2 separate regions of the Homo sapiens genome follow, and region 2 is linked to region 1. A link means that fine-mapping ties the variant in region 1 to the expression of a gene that starts in the linked region. Tissue or cell type: tibial nerve. Region 1 holds a variant in brackets; the other region holds the start of a gene. All regions are shown on one strand. Distances are between the middles of the regions.

Region 1 (5,221 bases):
GCGATGCCCTGAGATGAGCCTCTTCACTGCTCTCACCTTCATGTAGGTTGCCAGGTTGGGGTTGTAGTCATAGAGAGAGGCGATGATATTGAACTTGATCTTGACAATGACGCCCTCTCCCAGGTTGTTTTCCGCTGCAATCTGAACCAGCAGTTGCAGCAGCTCAATCTGGGCAGCACTAGAGGGCCAGAGAGCTGGGTGAGGCTTTGGAGACAAATCACAAAGTCTCTCCCAGCATGCCCGCTTCGGATAACGCGCCCTCCTCATCACCCATATCCCTGCTTCTCCTTTATAAATTCCAAACAGAAGCAACAATAATCCCAACCATCCTGGAATGCTGTGAAATGCTTCACACCTACCACCATCCTCTGTTACCTAATAACTAAAGAAGGTAAACACTCTTTTACTTTTTTAATCTTAAAAAAAAAAAAAGCCAGGTGTGGTAGCTCATGCCTGTAATCCCAGCACTTTGGGAGGCTGAGGCAGGCGGATCACTTGAAGTCAGGAGTTCGAGACATGGTGAAACCCCATCTCTACTAAAAGTACAAAATCAGCCAGGGATGGTGGCGGGTTCCTGTAATCCCAGCTACTCAGGAGGCTGAGGCAGGAGAATCGGTTGAACCCAGAAGGCAAAAAGGTTGCAGTGAGCCGAGATCGCGCCAGTGCACTCCAGCCTGGGCAACAACGAGACTCCATCTCAAACAAAAAAAAAAAAAAAAAAAAAAAGAGGAGAACATTATCTCATTGTATAGATGGGAAAACAGATCCAAAACGTTAAGTGATTGGTTTTAAGTCACAAGAAGAGTAAACAGCAGATAATGGACGGGGATGCCCCAAGCATACAATTCCCTCTACTACAGCCACACACAGACCCTCCCAACAATCCCTTCCCCCAACCTCCACCCTCTGCCACCCTGCAATCCCACTGCCCAGGCCCACGAATCTTACCGATCAGTTCCCTTCTTGCCTCGTGCCTGTAGGATCTCATTCAGTTTCTTGATAACAACAGCATGGGTGATCTCAGTTCCCTTGGCAAACATTTTTGGCTTCTCCTGTATCAGTACATATCCCGTCATGTACATGCCAGCGGGAAACTGTCCTTGCCTTTTCCCCACAAGGGGACCTTTATGTCCTCCCAAACTGTTCCCCAATTCATTTTACCTCTGAAACCCTCACCTTAACCAACGGCACTCCGCCCCGGACCCTTTCCCACTCCCCGCCTTCATTGTCCTCCTCCTCCTCCTCATCCAGGCGCTTGGATTTCCTGTCGTGCTTCTTCTTAGCTTTGTCCTCCCGTTTCTTCTCGGCTGCCTTCTTGTCCTCATCTGTGGTGGGTGCCCTGCCGACAGACATGGGAGAAGATGACAGATCAGCCCCTCCCCACCTCTAAGGCTTCTTCCTCCCATCAACTTCCTCTTTTCCTCCAGCAGCTCCTGGGTCCAAGTTATGCTCTACAACAATGACCTAGAGGGCACAGTGAACCATAACCATAGCCATCTCTAACAAGACAGAGTACTAACCAGGCCACTGTAGACATATTAATAGAAACAACCTGTCAGCTAAGCATGGTAGATCACTTGATGTCAGGAATCCAAGACCAGCCTGGGCAACATGGTGGAACCCCATCTCTACTAAAAGTACAAAAATTAGCCAGGCATGGTGGTGCACGCCTGTAGTCCCAGCTACTTAGGAGGCTGAGGCACGAGAATCACTTGAACTTGGGAGGCAGAGAAGGCTGCAGTGAGCCACAATCATGCCACTGCACTTAAGCCGGGGTGACAGAGCAAGACTCAGTCTCCAAAAAAACAAAACAAAACAAAACAAAAAAAAACCAACCTGTCATTTTGCTCCAAAGCTAACATCTACAGTTTTCCAAAGAATCCACAAACAACTTATTTTCTTTGATACCAGCTGCTTTCTCCAGACTGACCAACTAATCAATGAATCAGTTCCCCCAAATATATAAAAACATTTTTTTCTTTTTTACTATTCCTAAACTGTTTTATCGCTTTCTCTCCTCTCTTGACAACCGATTAATCTAAATT[C/A]TGAATTTTAAAAAAATGTTCATTACAAAAAAGGTCCCCACAAAACAGAAAAAGATCACCAGCTACCTTAAAATGGTCTTAGGCTACTGGATGTTGCCTGAAACCATCTCCAGACTTGAGTATGTATTTATGTAACAAAATACAAACCAAATGGCAAAGACAAATTACTTCAAACTTTGCACAGATACTGAAGAATAAATCTTTCCAGAAAGACTCAACATTTTTGAAAACTCATATGTAATAACCATAATCTACCATTTGAACATTTATAAATAAATTTCATTTTCACTGCTTAAAAGGTTTGAATATGTTTTTGGAATAGTCTATAAGTTTACCAGTTAAATTAAGTCTTCCCTTGCCAGAAGACCAATGCCATAACTCTCAACAAAAGTGTATGGACTGGCCAAGCACGGTGGCTCAAGCCTGTAATCCCAGCACTTTGGGAGGCCGAGGTGGGCGTATTGCTTGAGCCCAGGAGTTTGAGACCAGTCTGGGTGACAAGGTAAAAAGCCCGTCTCTATTAAAAACAACAACAACAACAACAACAACAACAACAAAAGCTTATGGATCTTTCCCCTGTACCACTGCAAGACTCTAATGATGACTCACTTTATAGGTAAAATCCTTTGCAAATATGCAAAGCATGTTCATTAAACTAAAACCTCTTGGTCCAAACCATCTGTATAGCTCTGAGATCAGAAGAACTAAAGCTATTTTTTAAAATGAATGCTTCAAAAGAACTTAAACTTCCTTGGCTAAAGTATTACTTCTAGCACTAAAGATAGTATGATACACACCTCAAAAGGGAAATGTACTATTGTATGAAATTCTAACTGAAAGACCTAAGACTTGGCTTGACCTCTCCTATGACAGATTATACTCTGGTATATTCATATCTTGTTAGAAATTATCAGATAACAAATGTTTATATCCTCAGCTATATAATCAACAGATAAAAGCAACATTTCTAAACGAGTATTACCTCTACTTAATACATAGTTAAGAGACTAAAAACTCATTATTGAGAGACACCAACGGAAGTCAGGCCTAACTACACTGCAGAGGACCACACCATTTTCCCATGCCTTCCCAACCACAACTACTGATGGAAAGCCCTAGATGTATACCCTTGCTTAGGATCCTAACTCGGACATTCAGTCTCACTAGAGATCCTGGGGTTCACTTAAAAAACAAAAACAAAAACAAAAAAACGCCTCCAGAATCAGGTAACTCTTAGAAGTAGACAGCAGCTCTGTAAGAGTTCACAGGTCGCTGGGCGCAGTGGCTCACGCCTGTAATCCCAGCACTTTGGGAAGCCGAGGCAGGCAATCAAGAGATAAGGAGATCGAGACCATCCTGGCTAACACGGCGAAACCCCGTCTCTACTAAAAATACAAAAAATTAGCCAGGCGTGGTGGCACGTGCCTGTAATCCCAGCTACTTGGGAGGCTGAGGAGAACTGCTTGAACCAGGGAGGCGGAGGTTGCAGTGAGATGAGATTGCACCACTGCACTCCAGCCTGGGCAACAGAGCAAGACTCCATCTAAAAAAAGAAAAAAAGAAAAAGAGTTCACAGGTCAATCATGACATCAGGTATAGATGAACTTCCCCCTAATACCTTCAGATCACCATAAGACAACAGATGGCCTTATCCCACATCAAAGAGGCTGAAGCTCATGAGAATAAACCCACTCCTTTACAAGCTTGTTTTGACCAAAAGATGAAGGCTGAGAAATGCTGATGATGGAAAGGGTATATTTAGACTGGCTGAATCTGGAGTTGCTGAAAACCCTTACTGGCAGAGGGCCTATCGTGTTTTCTAGAGCATCCACCAACCCTGGGTGGCATACTCAAGGAGAGTTAATATCAGAGTTTACACAGAAAAACGGGCAAACAGAATCCACTGTTCTGTGGTTTTGCCCTCTCTCCTTGTTCCTCTTTCTCCTATATAAATCCTGCTTTTGCTCGGTTGGAAATTAATCTGAAAATCTGTCTCCCTTGTTACACAAGTGAAATAGTGTCTGTGAATTATTCTTCTACACTACAAAGCCACAAACTCTCAATGTCAAAAAGATTCTGACACTTGAAATTCTAACTTTATTTTCTCAAGGGTTTTCCTCAGAACATTGATTCAACTAATTTTAGACTATTCTGATTAGGTATACAAGTTAGTTTACAGGTTAACAAAAAAAAATTTGGCTGGGTGCGGTGGTTCACGCCTGTAATTCCAGCACTTTGGGAGGCTGAGGTGGGCAGATCACGAGGTCAGGAGATCGAGACCATCCTGGCTAACACAGTGAAACCCCGTCTCTACTAAAAATACAAAAAAATTTAGCTGGGCATGGTGGCAGGTGCCTGTAGTCCCAGCTACTCAGGAGGCTGAGGCAGGAGAATGGCGTGAACCCGGGAGGCGGAGCTTGCAGTGAGCCGAGATTGCGCCACTCACTGCATTCTAGCCTCGGCAACAGGCTAGTGTCTCAAAAAAAAAAAAAAAAAAATTCAAGAATAACCTCTAAAAGCATAGCACGTCTAACTCCCAAACCAGCAGAAAAAAACAAAATGAATAATAAGAAAATATATATAACTAGAAACGGGGAAAAAAAAAAGAGGATGAGAAAATACATGTAGGCTAGGTGTGGTGGCTCATGCCTGTAATCCCAGTACTCTGGGAGGCTGAGGCGAGCGAATCATCTAAGGTCAGGAGTTCAAGACCAGCCTGGCCAACATGCTGAAACCTCATCTCTACTAAAAATATAAAAATTAGCTGGGCGTGGTGGTGCTCACGTGTAGTCCCAGCTACCCAGGAGGCTGAGGCCTGAGAATCACTTGAACCCAGGAGGCAGAGGTTGCAGTGGGCCAGGATTGCACCGCTGCATTCCAGCCGGGGCAACACAGTGAGACTCCTTCTCAAAAACAAAAACAAAAAACACACAAATAAAAGAAAAATAAAATACAGGCTGAATATCCCTTATCTGAAATGCTTAGAACCAGAAGTGTTTCAAATTTCAAATAATTGCATATATATAATGGGGTATCTTGGGAAGGGCTCCAAGTCTAACTATGAAATTTGTGTGTTTCATCTACACCTTATACAAACAGCCTGATGGCAATTTTACATAGTATTTTAAATAATTTTGTGCATGAAACAAAGTTTTGACTGCAACCTGTCACATGAG
Region 2 (5,221 bases), 450 kb after region 1:
GGGTTGTCACAGTGTATCTTTGGAACTATGAGTGAAGCAAAGGTAATATAAAAAGTCCCCCCTCCACCCTACATTCCTCCCACCCACCGTACCTTCTCTGGGGGCAGGATAATCCGACAGGCCATGTCCCAAGTCAGGGAGAACATGACAGGCATGAAGTGGGACACAAAGGGCTTGTGGCGGCCACCTTCCTCCTTGCTGAGGATGTAAACCTGGAGGAGAGCAAGCAATGACGGTGAGCTGGGCTTGGCTGGAGGCTGGGGAGAGCTTGGCTCAACCCTGCCCACCGTCACCTGGAGCCCTCACCTGGGCCTCCACCTTCTGGTGGGGCTTGATGGAACCTGGCTTGACCATGACCAGGCCCCGCCGCAAGTCCTCCCGCTTCAAGCCTCGGACCAGGGCCCCGAGGTTATCTCCGGCCTCGGCCCTCTCCAGGCTCTTGTGGAACATCTCAATGCCTAGGACGGAAAGGGAAAAGGAGCAGGGAGAAGGAAGGCGAATGTGAGACAGAGGGAAGGCACAAGGGATCTGCCGGGGTAAGGCCACCCTTCAGCCAGGCCCTGCTCTCCAGACTGGCTTCCCAAACCTGTCACCACAGTGCGGATGTTCTTGCTATGTCCTAGGAGCTCACACTCGTCTCCCTTCTTTAAAATGCCACGCTCTAGTGTACCTGTCACCACGGTGCCACGGCCTGGGAGGGAATAAGACAGGATATCAGGGACCCCGAGCTAGGCTTCTGCTAGAGAGAGTGCGTGGGAACAGACAGAGTCCTCACCAGGGACGGAGTACACCGCCTCCACAGGCAGCAGGAAAGGCTTCTCCAGGTCCCGGGCGGGCACTGGGATGTAAGTGTCCACAGCATCCAGTAGCTTCTGCACAGACTTCAGGCCTAACTCAGGGTCCCGACCCTGTTGAGGGGAAGTGCCAGGACTCTGAAATCCCCATTCTACTTCCCTCGATTATCAAGAGCCACTTCCCAGACACAAAGCAGAGCTCTGGGTGCCCATCCAGCCCCACCCTCTGCAGCAGCTGCCCTGCCTGACCCCGCGTTCACCTCAAGGGCACAGAGAGCAGAGCCTACGATGACTGGGGTCTCCTCCCCTTTATAGCCAAACTCGGTGAGCAGCTCCCGGATCTCCAGTTCCACCAGTTCCACCATCTCAGAGTCCTGGACAGCGTCAGCCTTGTTCACATACACCACCACATGCTCCACCCCAATCTGTAGATGCCAGAGAGACAGGGACAATATACAGAGGGGCCCAACTCCCCACTCTTCCCTTTTGCATCCTTACCCAGGCTCTGAGTACCTGTCTGGCCAGTAATAAGTGCTCTCGGGTCTGGGGCATGGGGCCGTCATTGGCTGCTACCACCAGGATGCAGCCGTCGAGGGGTGCAGTGCCTGTGATCATATTCTGGAGAGGAGAAGGAAAGGAAACAGCCAAGTTCAACGAGCTCTTCAGTTCACATCCATATAGCCAAGTGTAGCAGTTAGAAACTCAGGCCCACCTTTCTCTACCATCTCCTCACCACCCATTCTGCGTGGCCAAGACCACAAACCTGCCATCTCATACCCAAACACTGAATATCTTAATCTCCTCCCCACAAGCCTAACATTTATCCTGACAAGAGGCAGCTTCTGGCCCTGTCTCCAGTGTCCCAGCAACCCTCACCTTAACATAATCTGCATGACCCGGGCAGTCTGTGTGGGCGTAGTGGCGGGCGGCAGTGCTATACTCCACATGAGCCGCATTGATGGTGATACCCCGAGCTCGCTCCTCCGGGGCATTGTCAATCTCCTCGTACTTCTTGAACTTAGCCCCACCTCCCTCAGCTAGAACTAAAGGAGGAAAAGAACACACCTCTCAGCTAAAGTTCCAGTGCTAGAGGCAGAGCTTAGACCACGCCCCTGAACCCTCCCACCTAAATACATAACCTCCTCCAATCTCTAACTCTTCCAGCAGAGAGAACTGTGGGTCAGAAAGAAATGTTAGAGGGCCTTAAGGGTCTGCCCTGTGACTTCTTTAGGGTACAGCCTCTGCTTGCAGAGCATTCCCCACGACTTTGTGATCCCCAAGCCATTGGTGGATCACAAAGTTCTTCCTGTTCAGGAGAAATTTGTCTCTTGCATCTCCCAATCCACCTGTCGCACAAATTCGGGCTCTTGGGGCCACAGTAAACTCCTCCAGCAGACACTCTGCTGGCCTTGCCTCCCTGGCTCCAGGTCCCATCAGTAGATAGGGCGCTGCTGGACGCCCCAACCCCACTCACTCTTCGTGATGGCTGCAGTCAGCGTGGTCTTCCCGTGGTCCACATGGCCGATGGTACCCACATTCACATGTGGCTTGTCGCGCACGTAAGTCTTCTTGGCCTCCACGGCCAGGCCGCGGCACAAGAGAGGCAATGCCGGGGCTTTCAGCAGCCGCAACAGACCCTGCAGCAGGAAGGTCCGGCCGGCGGCGAGACCTGCCGGGACCGAAGCTTGGAGTCAGGCAGGGAAGGGGTCAGACCGAACCCAGCCACCTACCACTCCCCCAAAGTGTTCCTGGGCCGCCATCGCCCTCCCTGACCACTCACCGCTGAAGTGGGGCGTCGCGCGCAGCAGGGTGGCGGCCGCCATTGTGGTCATACTCGCGCCCCGGTAACCGGGGAGCCGGGACCAGGAGCCCGAGCGCACAGAAGAAGAAGGGCGCCTGCGGCTGGAAGGCACTTCCGGCGGAAGTTAGAGCTGGGAGGGCAAGTCCGGGCCCCTCTAGCCGCCAGTGTCTATGGCCGTCTCAGCCGACGTCGGGCGCGCGGCTGAAGACGTCATGGAGGGGGCTGGTGTCTCGAGGGCGGAGTATGATGGAGAGGTTTTCCACCACTCGCGCCTCTCGGGCTGAGGGGCAACGTAGTTCTCTCTGGCGGTCGCAGGGGGCACTGAGGAGCGTCCCCTAAATCACCGGCGCCGCGAAGGCTCATGGGCGTAGTAGTTCTCAGGTCGGCGGGCTGTGGAGGTGATCAGAGTGGGAGTCAGGCGGGCTAGGCCGGACCCGGAGGGAGGGGCTCGGGCTCCGGGAGGCAGCTGCGGCTCCGACTGCTCAGGAACCTCCTCCTGGGCCCGGCAGAGAGAGACCCCGAGTCCCCCGGAGTCCGACTCGCTACGCGGGTCTTGCGAGATATCTGGCCGCCTCTGCCGCAGCTGGAGGTAGGGGACCAGGTCCTGGACGCCTTTCGGGGATGGGGTGAAGTGTGACCTCCCTCTTCGCTGAGACTTTGTTTTCTAATCTGTAAAATGGGAATAGTAGTATCCACTTCATAGGGAGAGCCTGACATCTAGCCCTGAGAGGAGATGAACTGGGTAGGAGTCAGTGTTGGGCCCTGTGAGGTCAGGCAGCTTGCGGGGACCCTGTACTGCTAGACCTCACAGGGCCAGAGCCCACAAGACAGACAGCTTCGCTGCCCACCCCTGTAGTCCCTCAGCAGCCTAAGGAGCAGTTCCGTTGGGCATCGCCCCACCCATCTAATTTTGCAGATGAGGAGCCAAGGATGAGGAGCCAGCTAGGGGAGCCTTTAAGGGGAGCCTGAGTCTCCTTTAATCTGTCGGTGTCCCCAGCACCTAACAGGGTGGAGCATGCAGTGAATGTTGAATGAATGGGTGCAAGGGTAGTCAATGTCCCTTAACTTTCACATCCATCATCTCATGGCAGCTTCCACAGGGCACTCCAAAGTGTTAATTATGGCTGCTTAACCCTGGCTAATGTTTCGGAACTCATCAGATCCTGAGACTCAGTGGACAGTGTTTGTTTCAAATAGATTCCCTAATTCCTCCCCTGGAGGTTATGATTCCGTGGGGTCTATGCACAGACTGGGAAGCTATATAACAAACACTCTTCTAAAACTGAGAAGAGGCTGGGCACGGTGGCTATAGTGCCAGCCTATAGTCCCAGCAGTTTGGGAGGCTGAGGTGGGAGGACGGTTTGAAGCCAGGAGTTCAAGACCAGCCTGGGCAGATTAGGAGACCCTATCTCTACAAAAAAAAATTTAAAATTAGCCAGGCACAGTAGCATGCAGCTATAGCCCCTCCTACTCAGGAGGCCGAGGCAGGAGGATCGCCTGAGCTCAGGAGTTCAAGGCTGTGGTGAGGTATGATCATGACACTGCACCCCACCGTGAGTGACAGAGAAAGACCCCATCTTTTTTTTTTTTTTTTTTTTTTTTTTGGAGACAGAGTCTCACTCTGTCGCCCAGGCTGGAGTGCAATGGGGCGATCTCGGCTCACTGCAACCTCCACCTCCTGGGTTGAAGCAATTCTCCCACCTCAGCCTCCTGAGTAGCTGGGACTACAGGCATGTGCCACCACGCCTGGCTAATTTTAGTATTTTTAGTACAGATGGGGTTTCACCTCGTTGGCCAGACGGCTCTCGAACTCCAGACCTCAAGTGATCCGCCCATTGTGGCCTCCCAAAGTGCTGGGACTACAGGCGTGAGCTACCACGCTCAGCCAAGAAAGACCCCATCTCTATAAAAATATTTTGGCCAGGCGTGGTGGCTCACACCTGTAATCCTAGCACTTTGGGAGGCCGGGCGGGTGGATTGCTTGAGTTCAGGAGTTCGAGAACAGCCTGGGCAACACGGTGAAACTCTGTCTCTACTAAAATACAAAAAATTAGCTGGGCGTGGCAGTGTGCACCTGTAGTACCAGCTACTCAGGAGGCTGAGGCAGGATAATTGTTTGCACCCGGGAGGCGGAGCTTGCAGTGAGCTGAGATGGTGCCACTGCACTCCACCCTGGGCGACACAGCGAGACTCCGTCTCCAAAAAAAAAAATTTTTTTTCAAATGAAAACTCAGAGGAGTTTAGGAAACTCTGAACTAGAGCTTTATGATGTTCAGGCATTCCTATTGTTTCACAATCAGCGCTCCCAGTGCTACCCTGGGTAGTAGGAACTATTATTTCCTCCATTTTGCAGGTGTGAAAACTGACGGTCAGGGTGATTAAGGAATCCACCACCACTAAACCCCAAAAAGTGTGCACACCGCACTGTCCTTTTTTTTTTTTTTTTTTTTTTGAGACAGAGTCACACTCTGTTGCCCAGCTGGAGTGCAGTGACACGATCTCGGCTCACTGCAACCTCCATCTCCCAGGTTCAAGCGATTCTCCTGCCTCAGCCTCCCGAGTAGCTGGGATTACAGGCGCCTGCCACCACGCCCAGCTAATTTTTGTATTTTTAATAGAGACGGGG

What was found. PIP is the estimated chance that this variant, and not a neighbour inherited with it, causes the effect. A credible set is the group of variants that fine-mapping cannot tell apart.
Region 2: it holds the start of TUFM, and the variant in region 1 is the best candidate, but not a certain one, in a credible set for the expression of TUFM in tibial nerve (GTEx, PIP 0.88).

The regions. Positions count from the first base shown.
Region 1 is chr16:28,390,804-28,396,024 of GRCh38, forward strand. EIF3CL (eukaryotic translation initiation factor 3 subunit C like) reads right to left here. Exons shown (of 21, transcript NM_001317857.2): 9 at 1,177-1,339; 10 at 949-1,052; 11 at 37-178. MIR6862-1 (microRNA 6862-1) reads right to left here and starts at 248; the gene lies at 179-248. The variant C/A (reference allele first, on the strand shown) is at 2,046.
Region 2 is chr16:28,843,644-28,848,864 of GRCh38, forward strand. TUFM (Tu translation elongation factor, mitochondrial) reads right to left here and starts at 2,705. Exons shown (of 10, transcript NM_003321.5): 1 at 2,575-2,705; 2 at 2,269-2,463; 3 at 1,671-1,837; 4 at 1,308-1,412; 5 at 1,055-1,219; 6 at 776-908; 7 at 587-691; 8 at 307-458; 9 at 93-212. The coding sequence starts at 2,626. MIR4721 (microRNA 4721) reads right to left here and starts at 364; the gene lies at 276-364. It also overlaps a transcript of SH2B1 not described here. RefSeq lists an enhancer at 2,567-3,056.